4 linked regions of the Homo sapiens genome follow. The protein of the gene in region 4 purifies or fractionates together with the protein of the main gene of each other region. This does not show direct contact. Each region holds a gene or a part of one and is shown on either strand. Other genes may lie near its edges.

The links.
Region 1: the proteins of BCAR3 (region 4) and CCDC25 purify together in Homo sapiens (affinity purification with mass spectrometry; one large-scale study listed by BioGRID and IntAct). This does not show direct contact.
Region 2: the proteins of BCAR3 (region 4) and GSPT1 purify together in Homo sapiens (co-immunoprecipitation; one large-scale study listed by IntAct). This does not show direct contact.
Region 3: the proteins of BCAR3 (region 4) and LMNB1 purify together in Homo sapiens (co-immunoprecipitation; one large-scale study listed by IntAct). This does not show direct contact.

The regions. Positions count from the first base shown.
Region 1 is NC_000008.11:27,755,641-27,759,140, reverse strand, and holds part of CCDC25 (coiled-coil domain-containing protein 25), read left to right. Parts: intron 1-1,051; exon of another isoform or gene 1,052-2,370; coding exon 2,371-2,422; exon of another isoform or gene 2,423-2,838; intron 2,839-3,500.
Region 2 is NC_000016.10:11,884,957-11,888,456, reverse strand, and holds part of GSPT1 (eukaryotic peptide chain release factor GTP-binding subunit ERF3A), read left to right. Parts: intron 1-706; coding exon 707-887; intron 888-1,525; coding exon 1,526-1,680; intron 1,681-1,845; coding exon 1,846-1,986; intron 1,987-3,182; coding exon 3,183-3,276; intron 3,277-3,500. UniProt on the Homo sapiens protein: GTPase component of the eRF1-eRF3-GTP ternary complex, a ternary complex that mediates translation termination in response to the termination codons UAA, UAG and UGA.
Region 3 is NC_000005.10:126,829,136-126,832,635, reverse strand, and holds part of LMNB1 (lamin-B1), read right to left. Parts: intron 1-3,500. UniProt on the Homo sapiens protein: Lamins are intermediate filament proteins that assemble into a filamentous meshwork, and which constitute the major components of the nuclear lamina, a fibrous layer on the nucleoplasmic side of the inner nuclear membrane.
Region 4 is NC_000001.11:93,671,838-93,675,337, reverse strand, and holds part of BCAR3 (breast cancer anti-estrogen resistance protein 3), read left to right. Parts: intron 1-396; coding exon of another isoform or gene 397-407; coding exon 408-724; intron 725-3,500. UniProt on the Homo sapiens protein: Acts as an adapter protein downstream of several growth factor receptors to promote cell proliferation, migration, and redistribution of actin fibers.

The DNA of each region.
Region 1 (3,500 bases), on a different chromosome or scaffold from region 4:
GAAAGGGTAACAGGGAGAGGAAGATAACAAGGATAAGAGGGAACTATGGCTGTAATTTAAACTTTGAATAAATGTTTAGAAAGATTGGAGAAGTCGTTTGCTTCTTTTTTAAGGAAACTCGCTCAAGATAGTTTGTTTATAGAGCTGGATTTTTTTTTTCTCTTATACTTTCATCCATTCTCCCCTGCTCTTTGTAGAGGTGTATCTATCATATACAAACCTGAAATTGGTGTATATTGATAAAGTTGCTGTATTTTGGCAGTGATATTCCTGTGTGTGTTTTGGTTCTTTCTCTACTTATGTATGAATATCATTAAATATATATTGAATTATTTGGGTATTTCTTTTGACAAAATTCTACATCAGAGACCTTTAAGAAAAATCAGAATTCAATCTATTATAGGTACATAGGGAAGAAGATGTTGTAAATAGAGAACTGGCTTAAGGCAAATAAAAGTTGGAATGGGTAAAGTTACTTTTCAGTTATCTTGGTTACTAGTGTGATATTTTCCTAAGATTCTGAAAGAGGATAATGAGATATGTAATTTTTAGATTTGCAAAAAGCACAGGTTTTTCTGGCTGGAAAATGTCCAGCTGAAGGTGATAATTAGTATGAATCTCTCACATGGGAATGCAAATGAGTAAGTGAACCACTTGGAGAAATGTAAGTCAAATAAGATGTTATGTCCATTTCTGGCTATCACTAATGATTAAGAGTAAAACCTCGAGTCATCATAAACTGTGTGCCAAAAGTGCCTAATATTTTTCTGTATGCATAGTGAATAGCAAGATGACTAACCTCTTTAAAGAGGGCACTTTTATATAGAATCATACAGTCTACATCTTGTACTAGGTGTGAAGGTGACCATTTTCACCTCTAAAACATTTATTAGTGCTTAAGAAAATGGCTAGAGAAACATAATGGGATGTAATGATGCCTCTTTAGGATTTTCTGAACATTCTTCAGTCTGGAAAGGTAAGGACCAAGGAAGCAGTATGACTAATGTATTAGTCCATCTTGCATTGCTATAGAGAAATACCTGAGACTGGGTAATTTGTAAAGAAAAGAGGTTTAATTGGCTCATGGTTTGGCAGGCTATACAGGAAGCATGGCAGTGTCTGTTTCTGGGAGGCCTCATTCATAGAACTTTTAATCATGGCAGAAGGCAAAGGGGAAGCGAGGCGGCTTACATGGCAGGAGCAGGGTGCCGGGGCTGTGCACTTTTAAACAGATCTCATGAGAACTCTATCATAAGAATAGCACCAAAGGGATGGTGCTAACCCATTCATGAAGAATCCACCCCCATGATCCAGTCACCTCCCACCAGGCCCCACTTCTAACGCTGGGGATTACAATTCGACATGAGACTTGGTGGGGACGCAAATCCAAATCATATCAACTAAAGTTAACAGAATCACGAAGTGGCGATAGTGTTACCTTGTTTGTTGTGTGATGCTGGGATGCGGAGGGGGCATTTCTGGGTATTGGAAAGAGAAAGTCAAGTTCATTGGGTGAATTGAAAACATGAAAATCTCATATCCTGAATGTTGCATAGATTTTAAAAGGTTTAATTAAATTGATAGATGATAGATCCATCATGAAAGGTAAATTTAAGGGGTGGGGGACATTCTGAATGTTTTTAGGACAATGTCAGTAAAGGGCAGTGCTCACCCAAGAGACATATATTGGTATCACTGTCAGAATATAGGGCCGGATGAACTGTTGTGCTTGTGAATTATTGGGTTACATTATTGAATTGTGACCCATTTAATGACGTGTTCTGCTTAGCGTCTTTAGGCCCCACCTAACTCTTCCAGCTCTCTATTCGACATTCTCTTTGGATTGTTTTGCTATAACTTGAAATTTGGGATGTCACAAACGAAACTGTCATCTGTTTCCGCCAAACTGTGGTTCTGCTAATCTCCCAGGCTGGCAGCATTGGAGACTTGCTGACTTCTTTCATCCCCCACTCTTTTCACCTGAAATTCCTTTCCTTGGTTTTGCTCTAAGTCCTATGCTTCAGTCAGGGGCCAACCAAATCTCACTGCCTCCTTTTTATCATGAAGCCTTTGATCACTGATAGTTCTTTTTATATCTTGAAAAATCACCCTTCCCAGTACAGTTAATATTTAGTATCTCTACTCATCTTGGCACTTACTCACAGCTCCATAATTCAGTGTTTCTCGTACCTCTTCATGGTGATGGGGAGCCCTTTGGAGGTGGTGACTGTGCTTTATACTCCTCATGATGCTTCACATGTGGCAGGCATGGAGTGAAGACTTTTTAGAACAGAATGCTTTAAATGGCATGTGGCCTGAGGAGATGATTGTCTTGTACCTCTTGCTAAAAGTGGTTTTCATTCTTTGTAGGTTTCATGTGGACAAACTCTCTTCGGCTCATGTATACCTTCGATTACATAAGGTAACTGAATTTAAACATGGATTCTTGACTTTTCTCCTGATGATGCATCATATCTTGTTCTTTATCCTTTGCAATTAAATTGCTTACAGTAATAAGTTGGTACGCAAATCTAAAAGTTAACAAATGAAGACGTGTCTTCCCTCTGACCCAGAAAATCACTCTAACATTCTAGATGATTTTTGAGATATAGAAGGAGGCAGTGTACATATTTCCCAGCTAGATGCACTGCTTATCCTGTCACTTCCGGTGTGCTGTCTGTCATCTCTGCTTTCCTTTTCTTTCAATTCAGTTGACACTCCCAGACTTTCTGTCTCCTCCAGTGGATATCATGTGTGGCTCATGTGATTCTCCTGCCTCAGTGAAGGGCCCGTGTTCCCAGTTATCATGGGCTTCTTTAGGAAGTTTAAAAGAACATGCTAGTAATAAAGGAAAAAAATTTTTAGTGGCCCCTAGTAATACAATACCACTATTTTTCCAATCTATCTCTATTCATATATTTTATATAGTTGAATCATAGGGTATATATGCTTGCGAGTGTACTGCTTTCTTTTTGATAAACTTTCAACTTTGGAAAAATGTTAGATTTCCAGAAAAGTGGCAGAAGTGATACAGAGTTCCCATCTACCCTTCACCTAGTTTCCCCCATCATCAACATCTTATATTACTATGGTAGATTTGTCAAGACAAAGAAACTAACCTTGGCACATCGCTGTCACCTAAACTCTGGACTTTATTTGGATTTCACCAACTTTCTATTAATGCCCTCTTTTTGTTCTAGTAGCCAGTCTAGAGTACCATATTACATTTAGTTGTGTCTGCCTAGTCTCCTCTAGTCTATCACAATTTCTCATTCTTTCTCTGTTTTTTATGACCTTGACAGTTTGAGAAGTACTGATCAGGTGTTTTGTAGACTATTGCTCAGTTTGCATTTATCTGATATTTTTTCTCGTGACTAGACGGGTTATGGGTTTAGGGGGAGAATATCACAGAGGTGAAGTGCCTGTCTCGTCACAGCATATCGGGTGCGTGTATTACCGTGACTTATCATTGATGACGTGAGCCTTGATGGCCTGGCCAG
Region 2 (3,500 bases), on a different chromosome or scaffold from region 4:
AGAGTCTCCCTCTGTTGCCCAGCCTGGAGTGCGATGGCACGATCTTGGCTCACTGCAACCTCTACCTCCCAGCTTCAAGCGATTGTCCTGCCTCAGCTTTCGAAATAGCTGTGACTACAGGTGTGCACCACTATGCCCAACTTTTGTATTTTTAGTAGAGATGAGGTTTCATCATATTAGCCAGGCTAGTCTCGAACTCCTGACCTCAGGTGATCTGCCAGCCTCGGCCTCCCAAAGTGCTGGGATTACAGGCGTGAGCCACTGCGCCCAGCCCTATTCTTTCAATTTCTTTGTTTTCTTTTGAGACGGAGCCTTGCTCTGTCGCCCAGGCTGGAGTGCAATGGCACGGTCTTGGCTCGCTGCAACCTCCTCCTCCCAGGTTCAAGCGATTCTCCTGCCTCAGTCTCCTAAGTACTACAGGTGGGCTCCTCCACACCCAGCTAATTTTTGTATTTTCGGTAGAGACAGGGCTTCACCATGTTGGTCAGGCTGGTGTCGAACCCCTGACCTTGTGATCCGCCGCCTTGGCCTCCCAAAGTGCTCAGATTACAGATGTGAGCCACCGCACCCGGCTCAATTTTCATTTCACCAATCTTGTTCGTGATTTAGGTGTTGTGTGTCATCCATTATATCTTTAATGGTGAAGAATATCCTAAAAACTCTGATGTTCTTAGGAATATTGTTCTTTTTTTAAAAATTATTTCAGGTACTTGTCTTGGGCCTTAGACACAAATCAGGAAGAACGAGACAAGGGTAAAACAGTAGAAGTGGGTCGTGCCTATTTTGAAACCGAAAAGAAGCATTTCACAATTCTAGATGCCCCTGGCCACAAGAGTTTTGTCCCAAATATGATTGGTGGTGCCTCTCAAGCTGATTTGGCTGTGCTGGTAAGAAAGACATTTCCAGTCCATCTGTATATTTGTTAGTAGCCCCGCTTATATCTTTAAATTTGAATTTATCTTCTAAAAGCTCAAATTCAGGTTGCAGTGAAATATAATGATGTACACGGTCACAGTTTTCATCATACTAATCTCTCTTCAAGAAATCTTCAAAATTTGATTTACTTCTGAAAATACGTTTCACCTTTTCTCTCCTGTTGCTATTATCTATTACCATGTCAGAACTTAGTCTCCATTAAATGCCAAGCCCACCGTTAGGCACCATGGGTAAAAAATGAATAGGAAACCATCTGTTTCATACGGTCTTCAGTCATTTTGCGCTTTTCACAATGTACTGGTAGTAGATCACAATTTTTTTTCCTTTGTAGTTACAATAGCTAGAAAGTAAATGTTGGAATTTTAAAATATGCAGGTATACTAGATTTTGGGAATGTGGGGGATTGGAAGCATCTAGACATTGTTTGATTTGTGACATTCAAAAGCAGGTACGTCATAACTCGTTTGCTTCTATTTTCTTGCAAAAAAAAAAAAAAAAACTCGTGATATAACTGAAAGGAAAGATGTTTTACTGCCATAAGGGTATGCCTGAAGGCGAAGGAGTAAACTGTTTCCTTTCTTGGAATTAGGTAATCTCAGCCAGGAAAGGAGAGTTTGAAACTGGATTTGAAAAAGGAGGACAGACAAGAGAACATGCAATGTTGGCAAAGACAGCAGGTGTAAAACACCTAATTGTGCTAATTAATAAGATGGATGATCCAACAGTAAATTGGAGCAATGAGAGGTGAGCGTAGATGTCTGGTATTTTATGTTAGTGGGATTAAGGATGGTTTTGTTATTGTACGACTTTTTCTCTAGGGTTTTTCTAAACCTTAATCTGTTTACTTAGGAAACTAGAGTTCTTGGTTTACATTATAATTGAGTTATTTTGGTTACATTATAATTGCAGATATGAAGAATGTAAGGAGAAACTAGTGCCATTTTTGAAAAAAGTTGGCTTCAATCCCAAAAAGGACATTCACTTTATGCCCTGCTCAGGACTTACTGGAGCAAATCTCAAAGAGCAGTCGGATTTCTGTCCTTGGTACATGTAAGTAACTGTTTTTTCCTTTTTTTAAAAAGGAAAAGGATGTTATTACTTAAATTACTTATAAAGACATATGCTGAGTAACATGTTAACATATGCTTTTGAGCATATATCTTTATAAGTAATTTAAGAAAATATTAAATGTAACCTTGGCTTTAAAAATACTAAGATCTTTGCCCATTTTTAAACTGGGTTGTCATTTTGTTACTGAGTCCTAAGAGTTCTTTTTAATACTGGCTACCAGTCCCTTATCAGCTACAATATGATTATAGCAAGTATTTTCTCCCACTTTATGGATTGCCTTTTTTCACTTCTCGATGGTGTCCTTTGAAGCACAAAAGGTTTTATTTTTGAAGTTTTTTACATTTAGATATGTATTTGATTTTGAGTTAACTTTTGTGTAAGATGTAAGGTCTATGTGTAGGTTTGTTTTGTTTTTGTATATTAATTGTTTACACACAATTTGTTGAAAAGACTATTCTTTTTTCATTGAATTGATTTGGCTCCCTCTTTGAAAATCAAATGACCATAAATACGAGTTTATTCTTGAACTCCGTGTTTCTTTTTTTTGGTTTGTTTTTTTGAAACAGGTTTTCACTCTGTTAACCAGGCTGGAGTGCAGTGGCATGATCTCGGCTCACTGCAACCTCTGCCTCCCAGCTCAAGAGATCCTCCCACCTCAGCCTCCCAAGTCGTAGGGACTGTAGGCACATGCCACCGCACCCGGCTGATTTTTGTATTTTTAGTAGAGACAGATTCACCATGTTGCCCAGGCTGGTGTCGAACTCCTGGGCTCAAGAGATGCACCTGCCTTTCGGCCTCCCAAAGTGCTGGGATTATAGGCATGAGCCACTGCACGCAGCCAATACTGTATGTTTAAAGGGGAAATTATTTTATAGAATCTTGGTTTCATAGCTGGAAAAGTCCATAAAAAGTAATATAGTCAATTTATTACATGTAGGCTATTTGCTATAAAATATTTCTCTAAATTTTAATAAGTTTATGAGGAAGCCTTATACTGAGCAGTTTTATAATAGTTTTCTGTGGAATAAGTGAGATGAAATGGATAATAAAGTGGTTGAATGGGAAGAATACATGAGTAGAATGAAAATATTATTAGAAGCTGTTTATAGTCATGTAACTTAACATTTTGATATTTATGTTGACTTCCTTTAATGGCTTTGTTGTTATGTTCTCAGTGGATTACCGTTTATTCCATATCTGGATAATTTGCCGAACTTCAATAGATCAGTTGATGGACCAATCAGGCTGCCAATTGTGGATAAGTACAAGGTACCCAAAATGTTAAAGAAATTGGGTTTCCTGGGAGGGGAAATCATTGTTGTGCATTTTGTTTCTAGTTTTGAAAACTTTTTTTCTTTTCTTTTCTTTCTTGTTTTTTTTTTGACAGAATCTTGCACTCTGTCCCCCAGGCTGGAGTGCAGTGGCGCGATCTCAGCTCACTGCAAGCTCTGCCTCCTTGGTTCAAGTGATTCTCCTGCCTCAGCCTCCTGAGT
Region 3 (3,500 bases), on a different chromosome or scaffold from region 4:
GAGGGACCTTTTCTTTGCTTAAGAGACAGCATTTCTTGCCAGGCGCAGTGGCTCACACCTGTAATCCCAGCACTTTGGGAGGCCAAGGCAGGCAGATCACCCGAGGTCAGGAGTTAGAGACCAGCCTGACCAACATGGTGAAACCCCGTCTCTACTAAAAATACAAAAATTAGCTGGCCATGATGGCACGTGCCTGTAATCCCAGCTACTCAGGAGGCTGAGGCAGAAGAATGGCTTGCATTGAGGTTGCAGTGAGCCGAGATCACGCCACTGCACTCCAGTGTCACAGCAAGACTGTCTCAAAAAAGAAAAAAAAAAGAGACAGCATTTCTGTTTATTATTATTACTATTATTCATCCCTTTTTTTGGAGACAGAGTCTCACTCTGTCGCCCAGGCTGGTGTGCAGTGGCATGACCTCGGTTCACTGAAACCTTCACTTCCCAGGTTCAAGCGATTCTCATGCCTCAGCCACCCCAGTAGCTGGGATTACAGGCATGCACCACCACGTGCGGCTAATTTTTATACATTTTTAGTAGAGATGGGGTTTTGCCACGTTGGCCAGGCTGGTCTTGAACTCCTGGTTTCAAGTGATCCACCCACCTCAGCCTCCCAAAGTGCTGGGATTACAGGCATGAGCCTCCACACTTGGCCCCTGTTTATTATTTTTAAAGGGGTGGGGCGGGGGGAGCTGTATATCAGTAACTTTCTGGTTACTAAACTGAAATTTCCGCATAATTAGTAGCAGTTCTTATACCTTCCATATTTCCTGCAGGGGAGGAAGTACTATCCAATTCGAAATATCTGCTGAGAAGTTTCCACTGCTTTTTATCCTATTCTGTTACTAAGAATTCTACAAATTATTTGACATACTAAATTCTTTATAAAACTCAACATGAATTCAGCTTAAAGATCTTAGCTCCTGGCAAAGATAAGGTGCTAAATAAATGCTGAATAAAATGAAGCTGGAAGCCAACTGTGATCTCAGGGACTACCAGCAACAGGACCACCTGATAAGTGAGAAGAAAGGACAAGCTCCTTTCATTCCTTTCAGCAACTGATACCTCTTGAATGAAACAAAATCAAGACAGATGAACACTGTACACTATTTACCAATAACGTACTAGTGAGGTTCCAATGTATTCTGTACAGAAATAGGTCTCCTATCATTCACTAAAGGTATGACAGAAAGCAACTATTTCCATTTTCTACTAAAAAGGTCAAATACAGATTACTTTCCTGTGGAAAATGCTGACTTGGCACAAATGCAGCAGTGTTTTTGCTTAAGCACAAGGCTAACCTGATGATCTGGCAGCAAGTAAATGAGTGTGTCCTCAAGAGTGCTGCAGAGCATATAATTTTATTCTGTACCCTGTCCTAAGGTCACTCAAGAAAGAGAATGCTACAGGGGAAGACACAATATTACTTCAGTAAAAGCTTATCTAACACAGACCAGCTAGTTTACAATGGCAGAGAAAGAAAATCAAAACCCAGTGTCACAGAAATGAGACTTCGATTTGAAATATGCCCAATAATGTGTTTTGTAAATAAAGTAAGGTGGCAGAACAGTATTTTGTGGGGATTTTTTATTACTCTTGCAGGACCAAGGAAGATGGACCATTTTGAGCCTCTCAATTAGCCAGTAACTTCAATTCTGTGAAATTGGTCTATCTTTACAAACAGAAATAGCCATTTCACAAATATCAGTGTTTTAACCAAATTAGTAATAAAAAAAATGTGATTCTTTAGATCAACCACCGTTCAAGCTATCAACTAGGAGATAGCAGCATATAAAGCAGAAAAATAAATTCTTAAAAAACTTTGAGAGTACCCAGCTTTTCTCAACTCATCTTAAAATGAGGAACGAGTCAAATAAAATCTTCTATAACAAAATTACCACATTCCAGCTTCTAGAAGCTCGTGGTATACATCCCATATGCAAACATTGGCTCTTAAGGCTCATGATGTAGCTTAAGACTATTAGCCTCAATGAGAACCTCAGAAAACAGCAACTTGCCTGTCTTCATTATTATGAATTACCTTAACATAACTACTTTAAGTGTAACCCTGCTGTTAAGCACTCTTCATTTGAAAACATGCAAAAACCAATTAATCTAATACAGAAAGCCGTATAAAAAATGGGTGAGCTAATGTCTAAAAATCTAGGTAGAAAAATAATAAATAATAATTTAGAACCAAAAAGCTGTTGGGAGGTTTAGATCAAGGAAATTGTTATTAGTCAAGATGCTACTAAATAAATGTGTTTACCCCAAGTGTCCTGAAAGGTTCACATAAATAGTCTTACATGACAGGCTTTACTCTGTCTATAAAATGCAGCATTGGTCCGCCCCTGCTGCGAGCCTTGGGCATATGAAGGTGCACTGATCTGTGCAGTGGTGCCCGGAGCTGGCTGCACCTGCTGATGCTGCTCATCACTGCACAGCTCTGTGCTCAGTCACATAATGCTGGAAGCCTGGCATCAGCCACAGTAGGAGTATTTATACCACAGAAATTAGCAAATGCTACAAATCAGGGCGATCTTATGTGGACGAAAGATGATTGTTTATATTTTATATATTGCATCTCTACATATATAAGTAATCATTTGCATATACAAAAGTTTCCATTATATCTATATTCTGGAAAGTTTGGAAGGACTGCTTTATTTTTTATTTCCCTCATAAAAAACATCTTGTTTTTGCCATGGTGACAATCGCTGTTTTTAACCACCCAGTGCCCCCTCCCTCCTGAATAAGAGCCCCTAGGTTTACCTGGGTACACACCCCCCATGGAGCACACGTGTGTCACAAGGAGCCCAGTGCAATGTGGCTGTAGAGGGGAGGAAGAAGTCTTGAGCTCTAATTCCGCCCTCCCAACTCCAGGAACTGGTTTAGAGGTGGGCACGTGACCCACCCTAGTCCAGTGTGAGTGAAGCCCAGGATGGGTGCCTCACAGGGGATGAAGTTTAGCTTCCCTCCATAATTCAAACACTCAATATCAGATTATTTGGTGGGCTGGATTGTCCATTCTTTTAACAAACTTCTACTGCCTTCTGCTTGCTAGGCTGTTCTGAGAGAGTTCTGTCAGGAACGAGGAGAGAAAGTGGTATGAATACAGGTCTTATTTCATTAGACAGTTACTTTTGGTATGTATTCATTTAATTGGGTAAGACCATGTTTATCTGTCAGTAGTACCGGACCACGTTAGCAACAATCTATAAACTCCACCATAAAGAGCACTTTTTTGAAAGATCACCTTCCCACAAAAAGCAAATAGAAAAGACGTACCTCTGGGAGCAGCCAGCAGCTATCCTGCGTCCCCAAGGGAGGCAACCAGAAGAGAAACAACAGACAGATCCCCGGGGACATGCTGTGAGCCACTGGATTAGGTCCACTATTTAAATTTTTTATTATGTGAGCCCAAAAAATTTCCATTATTTCTAAGCCAGTTTAATTGGGTTTTCTGACATTTCCAATGCCCCAGCAAGAAGAAAAAAAAAAAC
Region 4 (3,500 bases):
TCATTTACAGGGCAGTGAAAATAATGTGAGCTAATTATCTAACAGTTTATAATATTTTCTTTCGTACATTTATTACTGCAACTATGAGTCCTCTCTTAATCATCTTTTTTTGCTGGTTGTGCATGGCTTATATGCCTCTAACAACTCTGAAAGTGTTTGCCCTCTTGGTTTTGCTGCCAACCCAGGACAATTCCTATGTAGGATCATTTCAGGAGGAAGATAAGTAAACTTCCCATTCTTATTAGACTCCACTAGTGATGCCATTAAATGTTGATCTGTTAATGGTCTGTGAATATTTCATTTTATGTGGCATATTTCCATTTCCTTTTGTAAGTAGGAAGTCAGTTCTTGTGACTCTCATAGATTTATACCTTCACTCTTTTCTTTCCCCCTTAGAGTTGAGAATTATGGCTGCAGGAAAATTTGCAAGCCTTCCCAGAAACATGCCGGTGAATCACCAGTTCCCCCTGGCCTCATCCATGGACCTTCTGAGCAGCAGGTCCCCTCTCGCTGAGCATCGCCCAGATGCCTATCAAGATGTGTCTATACATGGCACCCTTCCACGGAAGAAAAAAGGTCCTCCTCCCATAAGGTCCTGTGATGACTTCAGTCACATGGGCACCCTCCCCCACTCCAAATCCCCACGGCAGAACTCGCCTGTGACCCAGGATGGCATCCAGGAGAGCCCATGGCAGGACCGGCACGGCGAAACCTTCACCTTCAGGTAACTTCTGTAATTTCACTAGTGAAGATGATTTGTCTTAAACAGCTTTTTAAAAGGTTTTTATGGCCGGGCGTGGTGGCTCACACCTGTAATCCCAGCACTTTGGGAGGCTGAGATGGGTGGATCATGAGGTTAGGAGTTTGAGACCAGACCAACATGGTGAAACCCTGTCTATACTAAAAATACAAAAATTAGCTGGGCATGGTGGCATGTGCCTGTAATCCCAGCTACTCAGGAGGCTAAGGCAGGAGAATCACTTGAATCCGGGAGGCAGAGGTTGCAGTAAGCCAAGATCGCTCCACTGCACTCCAGCCTGGGCAACAGAGTGAGACTCCGAAGTTTTTATTAGGAAAAACATCAAACATACACAAAGTTGAGCGAATAATTAACTCCCATGCACCTGTCAGCCGGCTCCAACAGTTACCAGCTCAAGGCCAGTCCCGTTTTGTCTGTACTCCCACCTACTTCCCTCCTTTGGTATTATTTTGAAGCAAATCTCAGATTTCATATTATTTCATCTGGAAATATTTTGGTATGTTCCTTTCAAAGATAAGGACTCTTATTTTAAAAACTGTATAACCACAATGTAAAAAAAACTATAACACCTAAATAAAAACCACTTCTTAACATTATGTAACATTTGAGGATATTTTAAAATCCAGCTTCCTCTCTTAAGTCCCTTAAAAGAAAGCCCAAGTATTTTCTTTTTATCATAGCATCAGATTCTGAACTATGTCCATCCACTTCTATAGAGATGCCAGGATGTCTATAAATTAGACCCCATATCTCCTTATATTTAGTTGTCAGCATGCTGAAATAAAATTTTATGTGGATGCACCAGCAGGTCAGCTTCAGAATACTTTAGGACAAGAATTGATTTTTCCCTCTCTGTGACAGAGATCTGGGTAAATGAGCCTTATGGTTGTAAATGCTTTTTCTCTGGGTTTGTAATGGGCCTGGCTGTGATTGGTTTCTGCCTGTTAGAGCTAGTTTGGAAACTGCACTCCTTTTCCTGTTGGGGAAGATCAGCAGCCTGTGATGCTATCTGGTAAAGAATGGGACTGTTTCTTTTGTTATCTCTCTTTTTGTCCAAGCTTGTCGCAAAGCCACTTGGATCCTAGCTCATTTATTTGTTCAATATTTATATATGGAGCACCTATATTAGAGTATGTTGATTTCATAAGCCCCAGGGCTTACCAGGAAAATTCTGCTCAGTCCTGATTATCTTAAATGAAGGGCTGGTCCAGCATTGAAAACATTCTAGCAGCCAAATTATTGAGCAATCTGTTCTTGCCCTTTTATAGGGTGGTGGAAATATGTGGACTAACAGGGTAGCAGTGGAGCATCTGAAGCAATATCTTCCCAGAGTTTACATTCTAGTGAGCGCATTAGGTAGTATATACAAATAAATAAGACAACTGCAGATTATACCAAATGCTATAGAGGAAATGGAGTGATATGCTGGAGATTTATTGGAGGTGGTACGTTTTTGGTAGGATGAACAGGTTTCTGAGATGATATTTAAGCTCATATTTGTATAATGAGGGAAAGCAACCATGGGCCTTCCAGGCTGTTGCAGGCATGGGGAAGTCAAGTGCAGAGAACTGGAGATGGGAGCAAGTTTGGCATGTTTGAAAACCCCAAAAGGAACTGGAATGGCCTGTGGCTGGAGTGTAGCACATTGAGAGGAGAACAGTGTTGGTGTTGGTGCAAAGCTAGGCGAACAAGAGTTCAGAATTATTCTCAGTTCCATAATTGCAGTAGTACAAGAAGAAAATAAGTGGAGGCCCAGATAATCTCCATAGAAACCACTAGAGAGCCCTGAACTGCTTCTGTCACCAGATTAGGACATTCCTTGGGGTATCCTGGGGGTTAGAAGGCCCTGGACCGGCTCCACAAAATCTAGGTGGGTGACCTCCCAGCTCAGAAAGTTGGCAGGCAGCCACTGCTGGAATGGGTGAACATGGAGGTGCATACCTGTGCACAGGATTGTTAACATCGCATAATTGGCACTTAAGGGGCAAGAATGCAGGAGGTGAGCAGCAAAGACAGGTAACTTCTGGCCTGCTAAAGATGAGCACAGATGCCAGGCTGTGTGATACGGAGTCAGAACCAACTGTTAGCTGGCTTATGGTGGACCGCTTTTCATTTATTAACTTAAACTGTCCTGAGCTAGATGTCTACCATGTACTAGACACAGACAGTTTATAGACTTACTCCTTGAAGTTCTGAGGCCCTGGCTAGGTGCCAGCTCTTACAAAGGGAAACTCCACACTAGGGGGGTGGGTGGGGAGGCAGTAGTGATGGAGTCACCCTTCCTATCTTGGGGAAGTTCTTGGTAAACACCCAAGGTCCAAGCTGTCAAGCTGCCAAGAGTGTAAAGCTTTTTGATTTGAAAACTGACTTGGACAGAGGTCATATTTCTGTAAAAGATCTTATCGGAGGGTGGGTGCAGGTCCTGAGTTTGAAGTCCAGGCTGTGGAAGACTTAACAAGCACTCCTGGTTTAGGGTTTGTTTATGATTGAGAGCTATATTAATCCAAATTCACATCTTTTTTTCTTAACTGAAAATATCTTATTGTTAAAGATGAATACAGGAAGTAACAAATGCATATCCCTCAAAAATTGTGCTGAGTGAGAAGGCACATGGTTCTCTGTTAAAGGGTCGTAAAGTCCTACCCTGCTCTGTACTACTATTAATATATTTATTTCTCTAACACATTAAAAAAAAAATCTCCTGAGGTGTTCCCAATTTTGAGGAGTACAAAATACCTTA